Homo sapiens: one gene and its partners. The protein of the gene in region 5 interacts with the protein of the main gene of each other region in a pairwise test. Each region holds a gene or a part of one and is shown on either strand. Other genes may lie near its edges.

What was found.
Region 1: the proteins of CMTM6 (region 5) and SNRPB2 interact in binary tests that used the Homo sapiens proteins (3 or more experiments, as listed by UniProt).
Region 2: the proteins of CMTM6 (region 5) and ATP13A2 interact in a two-hybrid assay, tested with the Homo sapiens proteins (one large-scale study listed by BioGRID and IntAct).
Region 3: the proteins of CMTM6 (region 5) and TMED8 interact in binary tests that used the Homo sapiens proteins (3 or more experiments, as listed by UniProt).
Region 4: the proteins of CMTM6 (region 5) and DUSP10 interact in a two-hybrid assay, tested with the Homo sapiens proteins (one large-scale study listed by BioGRID and IntAct).

The regions. Positions count from the first base shown.
Region 1 is NC_000020.11:16,739,782-16,743,064, forward strand, and holds the end of SNRPB2 (U2 small nuclear ribonucleoprotein B''), read left to right. Parts: intron 1-543; coding exon 544-632; intron 633-1,064; coding exon 1,065-1,224; 3' UTR 1,225-2,783; downstream 2,784-3,283. UniProt on the Homo sapiens protein: Involved in pre-mRNA splicing as component of the spliceosome. Associated with sn-RNP U2, where it contributes to the binding of stem loop IV of U2 snRNA.
Region 2 is NC_000001.11:16,994,919-16,998,662, reverse strand, and holds part of ATP13A2 (polyamine-transporting ATPase 13A2), read left to right. Parts: intron 1-1,487; coding exon 1,488-1,643; intron 1,644-2,166; coding exon 2,167-2,277; intron 2,278-2,362; coding exon 2,363-2,409; intron 2,410-2,498; coding exon 2,499-2,687; intron 2,688-3,744. UniProt on the Homo sapiens protein: ATPase which acts as a lysosomal polyamine exporter with high affinity for spermine. Also stimulates cellular uptake of polyamines and protects against polyamine toxicity.
Region 3 is NC_000014.9:77,370,389-77,374,132, reverse strand, and holds part of TMED8 (protein TMED8), read left to right. Parts: intron 1-223; exon of another isoform or gene 224-442; intron 443-3,744.
Region 4 is NC_000001.11:221,735,508-221,739,251, reverse strand, and holds part of DUSP10 (dual specificity protein phosphatase 10), read left to right. Parts: coding exon 1-318; intron 319-1,985; coding exon of another isoform or gene 1,986-2,029; exon of another isoform or gene 2,030-2,121; coding exon of another isoform or gene 2,122-2,168; exon of another isoform or gene 2,169-3,744. UniProt on the Homo sapiens protein: Protein phosphatase involved in the inactivation of MAP kinases. Has a specificity for the MAPK11/MAPK12/MAPK13/MAPK14 subfamily. It preferably dephosphorylates p38.
Region 5 is NC_000003.12:32,489,135-32,492,878, reverse strand, and holds part of CMTM6 (CKLF-like MARVEL transmembrane domain-containing protein 6), read left to right. Parts: intron 1-992; coding exon 993-1,169; intron 1,170-3,744. UniProt on the Homo sapiens protein: Master regulator of recycling and plasma membrane expression of PD-L1/CD274, an immune inhibitory ligand critical for immune tolerance to self and antitumor immunity.

The DNA of each region.
Region 1 (3,283 bases), on a different chromosome or scaffold from region 5:
TAAGTGTTTGTTACTGCTTGTTTGTATGTAACTAGATGCTGTGTATATCTCATTTATTTGCCAAAAATAAGTAAATTAAAAGTCCCTAAGCAGTGGTTCTCGGTGGTAATCTTTCTAGTTCCAATTTTTTTTTTTTTTTTTAGTATGCTGGGAAGTAGTAACAGTACAGAGGAATTGAGTATCTGAGTGATACTGAGTGTGGTAACCAGCTACGGAGGGGTGACATTGCTGGCCATCTCTAATTTTATTAAGATCTTTGATTATGTTATCCAGGTGACAAAATTCTCCAATCACGACTCACCTCCAGAAGCTTAAAACATAATTGTTTCATATACTGTTAAACACTTAAGAGATTTGTAATTTTCCAGACTTTCAGTGTCTTTACTTGAATGTCTGCCTTGCTTAGTTACTGTAAGGTTTTGATTTATTTCTCCAGTGTCATTGTTTTTCAGCTTTATTGTTTGATATAGTAAGATTTCACATGCCTAGCTTACGATGCTGTTTAAACTTACAAGCTAACTTTGCCTTTTTACTTTTTAATAGGTCCCTGATTACCCTCCAAACTATATTTTATTCCTTAATAACTTACCAGAAGAGACTAATGAGATGATGTTATCCATGCTGTTTAATCAGTAAGTTTTTTCATAAATAAGTCTGTTTCTGAGAGCTTCCTCACAGGACAAGTAGTACTTCCGTGGGTTGAATCCATTTATCACACAGCAGTAATTCCTTACAGGTTCATTGATTTGGTTTGGGATGAATCATGAATTGGAGCCAATTTGCCGATTTAGCAAATACAAAGCTAAATTTCCTCTAATGTTTGAATTCTTAACTCTGATTGATGTAATAACAAAGCTTTGATATAATATAAAATAGAATTAGTTTATTCTTGCAGTTCTTCCATGGTATTAATTACACATGAGGCTCTTCCGTCTACTCAGTATTCTTGGTTAGAGTATGGTTATTTTTCTTGGACTAGTATTAGGAAGTTGCTTAACAAATTTTAACACAAAGCAAACATTTATGTACTTGCTGTATACATGAATTGTTTTTCTTCTTTATAGGTTCCCTGGCTTCAAGGAAGTACGTCTGGTACCAGGGAGGCATGACATTGCTTTTGTTGAATTTGAAAATGATGGGCAGGCTGGAGCTGCCAGGGATGCTTTACAGGGATTTAAGATCACACCGTCCCATGCTATGAAGATCACCTATGCCAAGAAATAACATTTGGGATAGTCGTCTTTAAAAGACTTGGTGTTATTTACAGTGTTTGTTTTGATAACATTTGGCTGGGTCATTTTAATAGTTAGAGATGAGGAGGAGTAAAAGTGAAATTTTTGTGAAGGACTTAAATTATCCAGTGTTTCTTTAGCCTTGGTGAACTATGAAATACGAAGGCCTTAATTTTGTACAATAAACTTTTATTTGTATTCTGTGTATATAATGCTTTCTTGATTGACCCATCTCCCTATCATCAAATGACTTCTAGTCTAGAACACACTTAAGGTTTATAAACTTGTGTAATAGGATGCTTTTCTAGTGTTACTTTGGAGGAGCTAATTATACAACATCATTGAACCATTCAATAAAAGTTAAGTAAAATTAGATCACAGAAGCTAGTAGATGACTGTTGTATTAATGGTAACAATGATTGTTCTGGGTATTAGAAGAAAATGAGACCCAGGCAGGATCTAAATTTGATCTTTGTATCCTTTTAAGAAATGAATATATTATTTTGCTGCTAGTAGGGATTCCACAAGTTTTCTTCATTCAGTATTAAATAAAGGCTGTTCTTACTGTTTACTGAGAAAACAGAAAGGGAATGCTATCTTCACACTTTGCATTTAATGCTGTTTCCTTCATGAGGCAGGACTGTTCTAAGGTTAATATGCAATCTCTTTATTGAAAGACCTCCAGGGTAAAAATTTTTTGATCTATAGTCTCTTTTCCCCCTTAAGACAAATAGACTGATTAATAAAGAGTTGCCAGTGCTAAGCTTGCTACTTCTTTGTAATTCTTAAACACCAATGTTCAAATATTTCCAAAGCCCATTTTCTTTAGCTTTTGATTTATGTTTAAGGCTATTGATTCAGTCCTCTGCTGAGTAAACCATGGGTATCTCCAGAAGTGGACAATTTGTTTTTACAAGTATGGTACATATTAATAGTAACAACAACAAAAAAGAAAACAGTACTTATTTTTCTGGTGTTCCTGTTTTAGTATTCCTTGAACAAAACCTTTATCACTTGGAATTTTTATTGTCTACTTATGGAAAGACTTTTAGACTTACGTAGACAGTATCACATCACTCTTATGCATACATAAAGAGGAAAAAAATGTTTCCTATAACTTTGTCACAGTTAGTCTGACTCTTCTGAATAACTTTTTTAATCCCAGTAGTCAAGCTCCTGTACTTTTGTAAAATATATTAACAGTGAATTACTAGAAAATGGGCCATGTTCTTGTATATTACAGTGATGTCAATTGCTGATAAATTTTCTAACTGCTTACTCTCGGATACCGTACTTGTCTAAGAACTGAAAATAATTCACAGACTGATCCCATGCCCAGTCCTGGCCATGCTTTGAGTGGCTGTATTGGAGCAGAAAAGCCAGGGTGGCTCACCTGGGGTGAGAATGAGGGGGGTGAATAGTAAGAGGGGTCGTGTAGGTCTTCTTCAGGATTTGCTTATACTCTGAGTGAAATGGGGGACTATTTTAGAGAATTTTTTTAAAGTGGGTTAGAATTTACGTACAATAAAGTTCACCCATGTTAGTGTTCCATTTGATGAGTTTGGGCAATTGTATATAGTCATGTAATAATCAGTACAGAGCATTCCATCACCCCCAAAATTTCCCTTGTACGCCTTTGCAGTCAATCTATTCCCCTCTACCCTTGGCCGTAGTCAACTACTGATCTGCTTTCTGTCCCAACAGTTTCGCCCTGTCTGGAATGCTTTGGAAATGTATCTGCTGTTGCCTATATCAGCAGTTCCACCAATGAATGGGCATTTGCGTTCTCCAATTTGAGGCTATTAAGAAAGTGGCTATGAAAATTTACATACAAGTCTGGGCATATGTTCTATTAGATTTCAAGCAGAAGAGTGATAGTTTGATACAATTTCTAATTTACATAAAAGTTGCAGAAATGGTACACAGAACTTTCATAACACTTCAAATTAATCATTAATGTTTCTAGGCTTCTGGGCTATTTGAGGTTGTGATTACATTGACCTGATACCCCATTATTCCATGATACTTCAATGTGTGTTCTTAAGTACAAG
Region 2 (3,744 bases), on a different chromosome or scaffold from region 5:
TTGTCCTGTGTCTCTTGATGTGTGCAAGTATTTCTTTCTCTGAGATGTGTTATATTTTGGTGGTAGATACTGGAGAGAGTTTACTAAAAACCACAGGATAGTGGTTTTTTTCCAGGGAAGTTTTCTGGCTGGCATTGTATTTGTATCACAAATCGTAGGCCAGGCGCAGTGGCTCGCACCTGTAATCCCAACACTTTGGCAGGCAGAGGTGGGTGGATTGCCTGAGGTGAGGAGTTCGAAAACAGCCTGGAAATCATGTTGAAACCCCATCTCTACCAAAAATACAAAAAATTAGCCAGGTGTAGTGGTGCACGTCTATCGTCCCAGGTACTTGGGAGGCTGAGGTGGGAGGATCGTTTGAGCCTAGGAGGTGGAGGTTGCAGTGAGCCGAGATCGCACCACTGCACTCCAGCCTGGGTGACAGAGTAAGACTCCGTCTCAGAAAACAAAAAAAAAGTAGTAATTGTGATCAGTATGATTTGTGGGCACACGCCCTGAGCCCTGCCCTCCACAAACTGTCCACACATACTTCATCTGCTCATCTCTTGTGAGGCAGACATGGCAGGATTGTCTGACTCCCTTGCAGGAATGTGCACACAGTAGGTGCTCAATAGTCCCAGCCTGCAGGCATTCAGTAAGGGAGTGCCACTGTTTGCTAGGCAGCCTGCCCAGGACTTCACAGGGCCATGGCGAGCATGCAGTGCTTTTCTCACTCCAACTCATGGAAATATTTGCCCCCTCCATGTAAATATTTCTCTCCCCTCCCCCTCCTCCTTCCCCCTCCCCTTCCTTACCCCATCCCCTCCCCTCCCCTCCTCTTTTGAGACAGAGTTTCACTCTGTTGTCCAGGCTGGAGTGCAGTGGCACGATCTCGGCTCACTGCAACCTCCGCCTCTCTGGTTCAAGTTATTACCCTGCCTTAGCCTCCCAAGTAGCTGGGATTACAGATGCCCACCACAACACCCGGCTAATTTTTGTATTTTAGTAGAGACAGGGTTTCACCATGTTGGCCAGCCTGGTCCCGAACTCCTGGCCTCAAGTGATCTGCCCACCTCAGCCTCCCAAAGTGTTGGGATTACAGGCGTGAGCCACCGCATCTGGCCCCTTGTAAATATTTCTGTTGGTTGGAGTTAGAAAAGCACTCCATGCATGTTATAAAATAATTCCAGCAGAAAGAGAACGACTCCCCCACCCTGCCCCACTGCACACATGATGCCCACACATGCTCTGTCTGACCCACCCCCCCCCGCTGGTTCCAGGGAGCTGGCTGCCACCTGCTTCCAGGAGTGTCTCCCTGTGCCTTTATATCTCCGTCCTCTCTGAGCCTCAGTGTTCCTCTCTGTAAAATGGGGCTGTGATTTCTTGTTCACACCTGGTTACAGAGTTAACTGAGACTTAGAGCTTGTGGGACAATTCTACACAGAACTCCTGGTTTGCTGGTGGGAGGGAGGGGTGTGGAGTGGTCCTCACACCACGTTCCCCACCAGGAGAGAGCATTCCAGTGCTGAAGACGGCACTGCCGGAGGGGCTGGGGCCCTACTGTGCAGAGACACACCGGCGGCACACACTCTTCTGCGGGACCCTCATCTTGCAGGCCCGGGCCTATGTGGGACCGCACGTCCTGGCAGTGGTGACCCGCACAGGTATGAGCCGGGAGGCTGGGCTTGAGAGAGATCCCGGGCTCAGCACCCTTGGGAGAGGTGGAGTGAGGCAGGGTGGGACCTGGAACCCTGGACCCCACGCCCACCTCTGCTGCTGCCCTGCTGTGGGACCTCGGGCCAGTTGCCCCCCATCTGGGGTCTGAGCATTCCCATCTTAGCAGAAGTTGGGCCAGACTAAGGCCAAGCATTGCAAGATCTGGAGGAGCCGCCGGGGTTACAGTGCTGGAGCGGGCAGGGATGTAGCGGGCAGGCAGGAGCCTTCCCTGTGTCTGGATTTTCAGTGGAACCACCCAGTGTTTAGATGCTATCCACTAGTTCCTTGTTTAAAGCCCTTAAAAAGCCTACAAGAGCCGGGCCAGACCTGTTAGGACTCCACACTGCTGATGGCTAATTTCACAAACATCATGTCTTGCAACTCCAGAGGCACGGGTCGGGAGGGCTAGGGGTGGGGAAGGCCTGCCCTCACCCTGGCTTCCCTGCCTTGGGGTCCCCGCCTCCTCCCCAGGGTTCTGCACGGCAAAAGGGGGCCTGGTGAGCTCCATCTTGCACCCCCGGCCCATCAACTTCAAGTTCTATAAACACAGCATGAAGTTTGTGGCTGCCCTCTCTGTCCTGGGTGAGTGGCCCCCTGCACCCTCCTCTGCCCATAGCCCCCCCCACCTGGGTCCCAAATCCCACTCAGTCCTTCGCTGTCCCCACAGCTCTCCTCGGCACCATCTACAGCATCTTCATCCTCTACCGAAACCGGGTAAGCCTTGGGGGTGGGGTGGGGGGTGCTGCCAGCAGGGCCCAGGGGCCAACCAGCCAGGTGCTCACATTCATGGTGCCCCCTGCCAGGTGCCTCTGAATGAGATTGTAATCCGGGCTCTCGACCTGGTGACCGTGGTGGTGCCACCTGCCCTGCCTGCTGCCATGACTGTGTGCACGCTCTACGCCCAGAGCCGACTGCGGAGACAGGGCATTTTCTGCATCCACCCACTGCGCATCAACCTGGGGGGCAAGCTGCAGCTGGTGTGTTTCGACAAGGTGGGGCCGCAGGTGGGGTTGGTGCAGGGGAGCGGGACAGCCACAGGCGCCCCAGTGAGGCCTCCACACCCGCGTTATTCTCTCAGCAGCACCCACAGGATGCCAGGTCCTGTCTAGGGATGGAAACCCCCAGAGGATCCACCCCATCCCACTCCTGCCCTCACTGGGCTCACGGTCTGGCAGATGAAATGTCTAGAATCATGTATTCATGTGTTCAAGAACTGGTGGGGGGCCGGGCGCGGTGGCTCACGTCTGTAATCCCAGCACTTTGGGAGGCTGAGGCAGATACATCACTTGAGGTCAGGAGTTCAAGACCAGCCTGACCAACATGGCAAAACCCCGTCTACTAAAAATACAAAAGTTAGCCAGGCATGATGGCACATGCTTGTAATCCCAGCTACTCGGGAGGCTGAGGCAGGAGAATCGCAGAGGTTGCAGTGAGCCAAGATCATGCCATTGTACTCCAGCCTGGGTGACAGAGCAAAACTCAAAAAAAAAAAAAAATTACTGGTGGGGACCTGGGGCCCTAGTGTGCATCCCGTGCTGCTCCCAACCCTTGGGGCCCAGCAGTGACCAACACAGGCATCCTTGTGGTCACTGGAGTGTGTGTGTCCCCCACCAAAGTAAGTGATCCAGGAGTGCACAAAGGAGCTGCTGGGGCTGAGGAGTGGGCAGTGGGTTTTAGGAAGGAAGCCAGTGGGATAGCTTGATGGGTTCTAGATGGGGACACTTCCTTAGAGAGAAGGCAGTCAAGGAAGCCCCCTGAGCAGGTCCCTCAGTGACCTCAGTGAGGGGCAGGTCGAGGAGAAGCAAGGGTAAAAGGTGGGAGTGTCATAGCACAGATGTACCGTGTGCCTGGGGCACAGGGAGTGGCGTGGCACAGATGTGCTGCGTACCTGAGCACAGGGAGTGGTGGAGCAGGACAGGGCCGGGTAGGCAGTGGCCTGGTTGACAGAGGCTAGGTGACATTCAGAGGCTGTCGGGGGCCACAGAGCGCTTTTAAACTGGGGAGGGGGCCCAGCGCAGTGGCTCATGCCTGGAATCCCGGCACTTCGGG
Region 3 (3,744 bases), on a different chromosome or scaffold from region 5:
ACAGCAGTAAGAAATGGAATTGGATATTCAGGTGTTCTGTTAGTCCATTTGGAATACCTGAGACTGAGTAATTTATAAGAAAAGAGTTTTAATTGGCTCATGGTATTGCAGGGTGTACAGGAAGTGTGGTGTTGGTATCTGTTTCTGGTGAGGGCCTCAAGAAGCTTAGAATCATACTGAAAGGGGGAGCAGGTATGTCACATGGCGAGAGTTGGGAGTGAGAGAGAGAGAGACGGGAGGAGGTCCCAGACTCTTTTAAACAACCATATCTCAGGTGAACTAACTGAGTGAGAACTCACTTATCATCAAGAGGATGATGCCAAATCATTCATGAGGGATTCATCTCCACGATCCAGTCACCTCCCACCAGACCTCACCTCTAACATTGGAAATCACATTTCAGCGTGAGATTTGGAGGGAACAAACATCCAAGCCATATCAGGTATTGTTGAGTTAAGGGTTTTGGTTTTTTGGTGTATCTTATTCCTTCAAAGCAGGAATGTGTCATTATCCAGAATAACCATAACTTGTTTTTTAAAAGTGTTCTCTGCAGAGAATACCTATTGAGTGTCTTCATGTTTGTTAGCTGAGGTTTTGGTGAAAAGGAAGGAAAGGATTTATGTTCTTATGAACTAAGCTCTCCAGTGGTCATGGTGTTCTTATTGTTTTATGCATTGTAATTGTTTTTAATAGTCTTTTATTTGAGGCACCTGGGTTCTTCAGTTCCCCAGAGGAGAGATAAATCATTCTTTAATTATGAAACTATCTGAGGCATACTTGTTGCATCACTTAAAGGCAGGTTTTTTTGTTTTTGTTTTTGTTTTTTTTTTAAGTTTAAAGGAAAATAAAACTCTATTGTGATCCTGAAGTCAGCAGTAGAACTTAGTTTGGTGTGTATGTCCCCCAGAGCTATCAATACATTTAGATGTTGAGGATGGAAACAGGTCAGGTAAACTTGTTCATGGTTCTAAGGTAGAAGTTAGAATATTACAATAAGTCTTTTTGCAGTGATGAAAATATTTCATATCTGTCCCAGCTACTCAGGAGGCTGAGGCAGGAGAATCACTTGAACCCAGGAGGCAGAGGTTGCAGTGAGCCGAGATTGCACCACTGCACTCCAGCCTGGGCGACAGAGGGAGACGCTGTCTCAAAAAAAAAAAAAAAAAAAAAAAAAAAAAAATATATATATATATATATATATATATATATATATATATATATATATAATATCTGTGGCTATTTCAATGTGCATGAATTAAAATTCAAAATTTGGTGGCTACCATGTTGAATGGTAAGAATAATAGGGAGTCAATGACAAACAGCCTTGATGTTTTTTAGTTTTCTATTGTGGTTTTATGTCAAAATGTTAACATTTTGTCTGCCTGTGGCTTTCTTTTTCTTACAGTGGTTGTGTTTTTAGTGTCCAGATAGTCGATTAGTCAGATAGTTGATTATTCATGTCGTGATTCAGTCTAAACAGTATAACCAAAGGTGCACAATCTGAGTGACCTCTCAGGAGCATGTCCCACTCAAGGGCTGAAGAGAAATTGGATCACATGGTCACTAGATTTGGTTGGAACATAAACTCACTTAATTTGTTTTCGTTTAAGCCTCTTGAGTCTGTAACCACATAGCCTGCTTTTAGTTCTTCTGCACTGGAATCTAAAATGACAGGCTAATTATCTCTTTGCAGCCTGTTTACTGAGGGGGAAATCCTCTGAGGCCTGTTCTAAAGAACCCTGACCTGATATTCAAATGCTTTTGAAAAAAACCTGCTTTTTGGTTCTCCTTGTAGGGAAAGTACGAAGTACACAGTAAGTTTGAATCCCTAGCATGATCAGAATGTCTGAAACCAGACCCTTTGGTAATGTAGAAAGAAAATGCACATTTAAAAAGTTGTCAAATATAAAATAAGTTATTTTAAGGAAGTTCCTTTTTTCTCTCTCACCTTTGCTTTAGTGGCCATCAATGATAAATTAAGTTATTGTTAAGCTTCCATTTTTCCTCCTCCGTTCATTGTTTCCGAGATTTCGGCCACTGAGGAACCATGGTAATGACTTTGCCACACTGGAGAATACCGTTACAGTATTAGTTATTTACTATTTTTTCTTGACATTGACATTTAATTGACATTTTGATTGACACTTAAAAGTTTCATTCTAAATAATACCTACGATATTACTAGTTTGATATATCCATTTTTCTTAATATATACTAGAATACATATTTTTAAAAATAAAAAACATTTCCCCACATACCATCTAAATTTGCAAAGTCTGGCCTGATTTCTCTGATCTCTTCTAGGAATACTTTCAGAATTGGCTTATATTTGGCTAATATAATAAAAGCTATACTATAGGAAAATTGGCTTTTTCTTCTGCATAGTGGCTTAAATTTCACTGAAGAACTTCAGGAAACCTAAAAGGCTGTGCTCATAATTCTCTCTCACTGAAACAGCGCTGCATCTCCCACACTTTATACTTCTGGAAATAAAGTTATGTTTTTCTTTCTCCTTTTCTTACTTCCTGCCTCTCTGAATCCAATTATAAGTTGTTTTACCAGTAGTTCTTATGTAATTTAGGGCATTCTTTAAAATTAAAAATAATTTAGGGCATTCCTTTAAAGTTAAAAATCAAAAGCTCAACTCCTTATGGGATGGAAAGAAAAAAAATCAAAAGCATATTTTTTTCCAGTATACATTAAGTTGTTAAAATGCTATGAGAAGTGGTGCTTACCATGTGAAAAATGCTCAACCTAAATCATAATAAGGGAATTGGAAATCCTAACTACACTTGGTAGTTTGCTAACTCACTTTGTTGGTCGGTGTGCAGAAGCAGACACTCTCATGCTTTGCTAATGAGATTGTAAATTGGTACAGATTCTGTGGAGGGCAACTTGTCAATATCCATCAGAATTACAATATATGCCCCTTTGACTCATTCTTTCCAGGAATTATAGATTTATTTATTCTCCTGTTTAATGACATAGATACAAGGTTATTATGGCATTGTTTGTAATGGTAATACATTATGGAATATTCACCCAATGAAATACTAATCAGCTGTAGAAAAGAATGAAGAAGCTTTTCATGTGCAGTTATGGAAAGGTCTTTGAGATATAAGTGGAAAGAACAAAGTACACAGTAGTATGTCCAGCATGCTCCCCCCGACCTTTTTTTTTTTCTGAGACAGAGTCTCGCACTGTTGCCCAGGCTGGAGTGCAATGGCGTGATCTTAGCTCACTGCAACCTCCGCCTCCCGGGTTCAAGCGATTCTCCTGCATCAGCCTCTCAAGTAGCTGGGATTACAGGCACGCACCACCACGCCTAAGCATGCCCATTTTTTGTGTAAAAAAGTGAAAAAGTATACACACACACACACACACACACACTTTTTTTTATATGCATAAAACATCTTTGGAAGACTACACAAAACCAAATAACATTGATTGCTTTTGGAGGTAGGGACTGACATGGGAGGAAATTTTTCACTGTATACTTATATGCTTTTTGAATTTTGAATAATGTGGATAAATTATTCAGAAATAGTTAATAAAAATAGTCTTTAAAATATATAAATATATGTGTACATAGATAGACACACACACAAACTTGGCATGAGACTTCACTATGTCTATATCCTAAATAAGAGCCTTTCTATAGGTCTGTATTCTGTTTCTGCTCATCAGGAACTGACATTTTCTAGACCTTTTTCTCTCAGTGAATTTTTTTATAAAAGGTTATAA
Region 4 (3,744 bases), on a different chromosome or scaffold from region 5:
GTCACCTGCCGAGTCAGGGCCCTGTCATCATTGACTGCAGGCCCTTCATGGAGTACAACAAGAGTCACATCCAAGGAGCTGTCCACATTAACTGTGCCGATAAGATCAGCCGGCGGAGACTGCAGCAGGGCAAGATCACTGTCCTAGACTTGATTTCCTGTAGGGAAGGCAAGGACTCTTTCAAGAGGATCTTTTCCAAAGAAATTATAGTTTATGATGAGAATACCAATGAACCAAGCCGAGTGATGCCCTCCCAGCCACTTCACATAGTCCTCGAGTCCCTGAAGAGAGAAGGCAAAGAACCTCTGGTGTTGAAAGGTAATGCCCCTGCTCCCTTCCCAAGCACGGTCCTGATTAGCCGGGTTCACTTTGGGTTTTCTCGTAGAGTGACAGCATTCTCCTTACCCTGGCTACCAAAGACCAAAATAGACTTTATTCTTCTCTTCCCTTCTATGCTCTTTATTGTTTTGGTTTAGTAAGAAAAACCCAGCAGCACTGAACTGGAAGCCAGAAGATCTGGGTTCTACCCTTCATTTGGGTTCTAATTTGCATTGTGCAAGTCATTTCACCTCTCTGGGACTGTTTTCTCATCTTTCTAAAAAGGGGCTTTATACACACCAGATGGTATCTCAAGTCATGCCTGGTCTGCTAGCTCTATTCCAATCAATCACTAGTTGGAAAGTTATTGTCTCTCAGACTTAACCAATGTTGATGGAACAGAGGAAGGAGCAACTATGGTGAACTACAAGTAAACCTACAGGTACCAGTTCTTACTGTGGGAAATTCTTTCTCTTTCTCACCTTTCTGACCAGCTTGACTTTTATGTGGTTTATAAAGTGACCTTGAAGAAGGGCAGAGCTTCTTATTCTAAGGCCCCATATAAAGTATAAGTTCACCAATTACATCCATTCCTCTGCCAAGGCTCCAAGGGAACAGAGACGTTTTTATGAAACACTCCCCAACCCATTGTTTTTTCTGGCCTCACCTGACAACGGTTGGCATCATGGCTCCTCCCAAGATGGAGTAATGGGTCACTTGCCCCAGTATACTGAATGCAGAATAACTGAGATTAGCAGAACTGAGCTCTGGCAGAAGGAATTATTCACCACTCTTCTCGGAGCACCTTCCATACCGTGTTGCCTAACCTTTCCAAGTAGCCTGCATCCTGTGCCCAGCCTAGTTGCACCTCTTTGCCCTCAGATACTGACTTTTGGGGCACTGTACATCACTCTCATTCGGCATCTTTTACCTGGTGGTGGTAGTGAGAGATAGTCGTCTTCTCTCTTCTCTCCTCTTGTGTTCTGAGCCAAGGTACGCAGTTTCTGGGTCACATCTCCAACCAGTCTCCTAAAGTGTGTTGACCAAAGGTGTTGCTGAGTTTGAACACATTGCATATTTAAATTGCAATAGGACATGTGGGTGAGCAAGTTAGTTATTTTGTCTCTATGGGACAGCTTTGCCATTCTCCTTCTTGTCTTCCCAGTGGGGCATTCTGCCTTTTGTTAAGCAGTGTTCTGGGAATTATAGTTCTGAATTCCACTGACACAATCTCCTCTTCCCACCCTCCGCTCTCCTCAAACTTGCCCTCATGGGGCTACACTACCACAAAGGCACATCTCTCCTTAGGGCTGGTGGGCTTTGCTGGGAAGGAGAACATGAAAGAATTGTATGTAGAGAGTTCCAGAAGCTTCTAGACATTTCCTGGTCGTGGTGGTTGTGGTGGGTTTTCTTGAGGTCACAAATATGTTCAGATTTCCTCCATATAGCTCTGTATTTTATTGTTTCTGTATTCTTGTATGGTTGACTTTGAGTGATTCCCAGGATATTTACCCTGCTATTGTCTTACCATAATCTTGATGTGTCTAGCCTCTTACAAATGAGAAAATCCTACCGAGGAATTTCCCATTTGTAATAGTTTGTCTTGGGGAGCAAAGAGGAGGATAGCCAATGATCATGATGATCTCCTCTTTTCTCACGCAGAGCAGGTGTTCATGATAAAAAGCAAGTCTTTTGTGTCTTCATGATCTGAAGAGAGGAAACAACACGGATCAAGATGATCCTAGACCTCCTAATCATGGGGATGATTACAAGGAGTTGCAGACCCTACTCTCTATTTTGCAGTGGGTGGAGTTGTGGATAGGGGTGACCCATCAGTCATTGAGAAATGAATCTCCTGGGTGCTACTTGTGAAAGTGAGGATCCTCTCTCCCTTTCCTGTGGATGCAGCTGAGATTCTGGACAGCCTAGACTTCTTCCTCAGTGTCAGAGTAAGATTGCCTCAATGGGGCGGGGCAGGACACACTGCTGACCTCACCACTGGGCGCCCTGGGCAGCCACTGCGAGGCCTCGTCATTTTCGAGTTGGTGAGACACCGCGGCAGTCGACTTGGAAGATGCTCTGGTGGTAGAGGTTAGATTATTTGTAGTTTTGGGGGCCTTTTCTTCAAATATCTGGGAATTTCATTGAAAATATGTAGTTCAGGAGTGAAGGGGTCTATATTCTACTTTATAATTATCATTATCATTTTGGTATCTTTTGGGAGAATGGCCTAAAATTGGGACCAAGATGGAAAAGAAGGGAAAGGAATGGGTCAATATTAGAATGCCCTTCGTTATCCTTTCAACTTGGTAAACCAGAGATTAATACCATAGCACCACTGTGGTGAAAGACGGGGTGGGCATTCCCCAAAGGCATGACCAGCAGACTTCTCTCAGATTCTTGAGTGGGTCAAGCAGACCATTCTGGTCTGGCTTCTCCTCTCAGATTTATTTGAGTAATCCCCTCCCTTGGTGATAAGATTGTGTTTCAGCAAGAGTGGTAGTGGTACCATTTCGGAAGGAGTAATTTTTGCAGGGAAGTTGGTGGGAGGGGGGCATAGTTAGAACATAAGGAGGAAACTTCTAAAGGCTTGTTAGTTTATTTTCAGAGATTTCAGTACAATCTTGGGTAATTTATGGCTGGCCCATCTGATGCTCTGGTTTATGTTTGTAAACACTGGTTGCTACCCTCCCTGTCCAAGATCCTTGTCCCCCTGTCTCCATGCCATACTCTCCATTTTTGGTGCTGTCTGTCAAGTAGAGCGGCTGCTAACTTGCCATTTTAGTAATGCTGTGTCAGGTTGGGAAGAAACCGATCAGAGGCATGGCAGCCCCTGGGATTAAGTTACTGTTCTAATTTACAGTGCCCTCCCTGTTGTGACCTATGCTAGAATCTATGTTTTAGTCTCATCTTCTAAAGAATAAATGGCATCAGACCTGTGCTTCTCTTCAACCTGGTGAAAATGATCCAAATGAATAAATATTTAGGGATTTGTGAGGTCTTTGAAAGAATTATATTGTTTTACTCAAAGCTGATTTTTAATCAACTAAAACTTGCTTTCTAGTCAAACTGAGTAAGAAAGTTGAACAATTCTAGACCATCCATAACGAGAGCTACCGTTTTTGCTATAAAGTTTTTCAGGCTCCCTTTCTTTTCAGTAAAGCTGGGTCCAGGGAAATAATTTGTCATTTACTTAGGTAGGAAGAAATAGTCTACTGCCCCTTTTTCTTAAAGACAGTATATGCCTTCAAAAATGTTATTATAAACATTTTCAAGCATATAGAAAAGCAGAAAAGTGTGTAATGAACATCCATACACCTATCAACCAGATTAAACAATTATATTTTTCCTATTTGCTTTCTCTTTTCTGTTGAAATATTTAAAAATATAGATAATGTTTTAATGTATTTAAGTATGTTTAATGTG
Region 5 (3,744 bases):
TGATTAATGCAGAAAACATGTGGAATTCGTCAGTAGACCCATAAAGAAAATACTCACTTCAGCAGATTGTTAATAAATGTGCGTTTTTAAGTTAAAATGTTTAAGGTACACATGTGTTATCTTGTGTTCCATATTATTTGTATGCATCTTGTCTGATATGAGCTTTTGCATCTTGTCTGATAAGAGCTTCTGCTGCATCTCTCAGTGATTGCCACTCTTCTCTATTGCTGCTCCCTAGTCGCTATTATTTGCCCTGATTTCCTACATCAGCTTCCCAGTTGGATGTCCGCCCCAAGGTTTGCCTTACCTCTGGTCCCTTCTCCATATTGTAGCCAGTGAGAACTACTGAAAGCATACACCTGATCATTGTCAACCTTTACTTTAAAATCCAGACTCTTAATTAACGAGGACATTTAGATCTGGCCTCAGCTTACCTCTCTAGCCTCATATACTAATTTTTGTGCTGCCATTCTCTTCCCTTAAACTCTATACTTAAGCCATGTTGATTTGACTCACTTTGACAGTTAAGTTGGAGGTCGGGGTGTGTGTTGTCTGTATGTTGGGTCAGAGGGCAGGTGCCATGCTCCCTCATTTCTGGCCTTTCTATATACTGCTTCTCTGCTGGGAATTTCTTTCCTTAATCTTTCATCCCCCAAACTGACTCTGTTCTTCAGGTCTCAGCTTTCTCCTTCAGGAAGCCTTTCCTGACCCCGCAGTTGAGCGTCTCTCCTGTGTGCTTTTATAACAATATTATATATTTCCCCTTTGCTGGCATTAGTACACGATAGGTTAATTAATTCTTTATTTACCTGTATTTCCTTCAAGGCGGCCAAACTGTAAGTTCTGTGTAGATAAGGTTTATTCATTAATCTTGTTTGCCATAGTCTCCTCATTGTAAATATTTGAGTAAACGTATTATTCAGAAACAGCTTTCTAAATACTGTAGATTCTCTGAAAAAACACTTAAGTAAAATGTTTTGCTTCATTTGTAGTTGCTGTCTCTGCTGGCCTTCATCTGTGAAGAAGTTGTATCACAATGTACTTTATGTGGAGGACTTTATTTTTTTGAGTTTGTAAGCTGCAGTGCCTTTCTTCTGAGTCTCCTTATACTGATTGTGTATTGCACTCCATTTTATGAGAGAGTTGATACCACAAAAGTAAAATCATCGGTAAGCATGAGAAAATATCATCCCTGTATTAATAGCTGTTTTGTAATCTGGCATAATTTTATTGTTCAAAGCAGTAATGTTTTCAAAACTCAGCAACATGAAAAGACAGTATCCCTTGTTCCAACTCGCTCTGCTTCTAAGCACCTCATTTTTTCCTACCAAGGGGATGGTAGAGAGGGAAAGTGAGATTAGAATGAGAGTGACAGACACTGCCAATAGTTTACAGTTATTGGTGGTTTAATGTAATTCACATTAGACTTAAAAAAGCCTAGGATTTTGTCACTTCTGATTTCTCACTTTTGAGTGTCACTCATTGGTTCTACAATTATTAATTGTGTGCCTTTATTATATGCCAGGCATTTATATGCTAGACATTGGAGATAGAGTAATGAACTAATGTGAAATATTTCTGGAGCTTTAAAATAAAACAACATTTAAAGCTTAAAGCTTCAGTGATTGGGGAAAATAAAACAACATGTAATTCTTCCTATATTTTGCTTTAATGGTATTATGAAAAGTTGTCTATAAGTGAATTAAGAATGCATTTGTTCCTGTGTTAGTTTGCTAGGAGCAGAATCCTGTTAGAACCAATGCCCTACCATCTTGAGGTGCTGTCATGGCTAATGCCATCACTATAGGAATTTCTATGACAATGACAACAGGACTCATTTGTTTTATGAAATATATATTAAGAGGATACAGATAATCCTTAGAATTTTTGTTAATTATATTTGTAGTCTTTGGACATTTTTCTTTTTTACAGATTAATATGCCATAAGATTTGGACTAGGGAAAAGTTCTCAAGTGTCTGAGCTGGTTGATTTATAGTTTGAATGTGTAAAAAAAAATGTATATATTCCAAATTCTGGCTGGAAAAATTTATATTAAAAAAATTACAGATTGAAATCATTTTGTCATTTCTTAACAGTGAAACAATATCACCATAAAAATATTTTTAGAAATGTTTAGTTTTTATTTTAATGCTGCATCTGTAGTGTTTAAAGCACACTGATCATTTTGACAAGAAATGGTATTATAATATTGTCCAGTGTAGTATAATGGTGTAACGTAAAAAAAGTAAAACCTTTATTATATCAAACTTGAGCATTTAAAAAGTCATTTTAGAGTAAATACTGGTTTAAAAATACTGAGAAAAAAGAAAAATTAGTCCATCCTAAAATAGCTTTTGTATTATTTTGCTGTATTCCTTTCAAGTCTTTTTATTCCATTCATAGTTTTAAAATTTAAAATATTTGTAATCATAGAACATATATTCTACTTTTTACCTAATATAAGGATTTCATGTTTGTTTGCAGGGTTTCAAAATCACTTTTTACTGTCTGCATATTAATACACTTAGGTTTTAAATATTTTTTCATGCAAGAGAGGTTTTCTGTTTTAGAGGAATGTGTTTTGAGTGTGTGGTACTGGTGGTGCCTAAAGAAGAATAACTTTTTTTTTTTTTTTGAGAAGTCTTGCTGTGTTACCCAGGCTGGAGTGCAGTGGCGCAATAGCAGCTCACTGCATCTTCCACCTCCCGGGTTCAAACGATTCTCCTGCTTCAGCCTCCCGAATAGCTGGGATTACAGGCGTGTGCCACCACACCCAGCAAATTTTTGTACTTTTAGTAGAGATGGGGTTTCGCCATATTGGCCAGGCTGGTCTCAAACTCCTGACCTCAGGTGATCCGCCCACCTCGGCCTCCCAAAGGAATAATATTTTTTAAGAGAGAATGTCTTCTATCCCATGCTATTGCAGTCGGAGTCTATTAAGAACAACAGTAGCCAACATTTTTGGGACGTTTACATTTATTAGTGGTATAGCTCAGATTTGAACTCAGGTAGACTGGCTCTAGAACCCGTTTATTGAACACTACATTATGGTCTAAAAATGATTGTCTTGTTTCAATTAACTTGAATGTATTCCAAATATTAGTAAATAGAATTTTATATTTATATGTAATAAATTTGAAATAATCAAAAGGATTAAAAAATAAAGTACTACAGGGAAACACCTTTTAGAAGCAGAGAAAACCTCTTTTTTTTTTTTTCTTTTTTGAGACAGAGTTTCGTTCTTGTCACCCAGGCTGGAGTGCAATGGCACGATCTCGGCTCACTGCAACCTTGTGCTTCCTGGGTTTAAGTGATTCTCCTGCCTCAGCCTCCCAAGTAGCTGGGATTACAGGTGCCTGCCACCACACCCAGCTAATTTTTGTATTTTTAATAGAGATAGGGTTTCACCATGTTGGCCATGGTGTTCTTGAACTCCTGACCTCAGGTGATCCACCTGTCTTGGCCTCCCAAAGTGCTGGGATTACAGGTGTGAACCACCGTGCCCGGCAAGAAAACCTCTTACATTTTATATAAATGTTAAGTGAATGATTGACAATTTAGGAATTCTGTGTTAAATAGTTTTATTGATTTTTTTTTTTTTTTTTTTTGAGATGGAGTCTCGCTCTGTCGCCCAGGCTGGAATGCAGTGGTGTGACCTTGGCTCACTGCAACCTCTGCCTCCTGGGTTCAAGTGATTCTCTTGCCTCAGCCTCCAGAATAGCTGGGACTACAGGCACCCACCA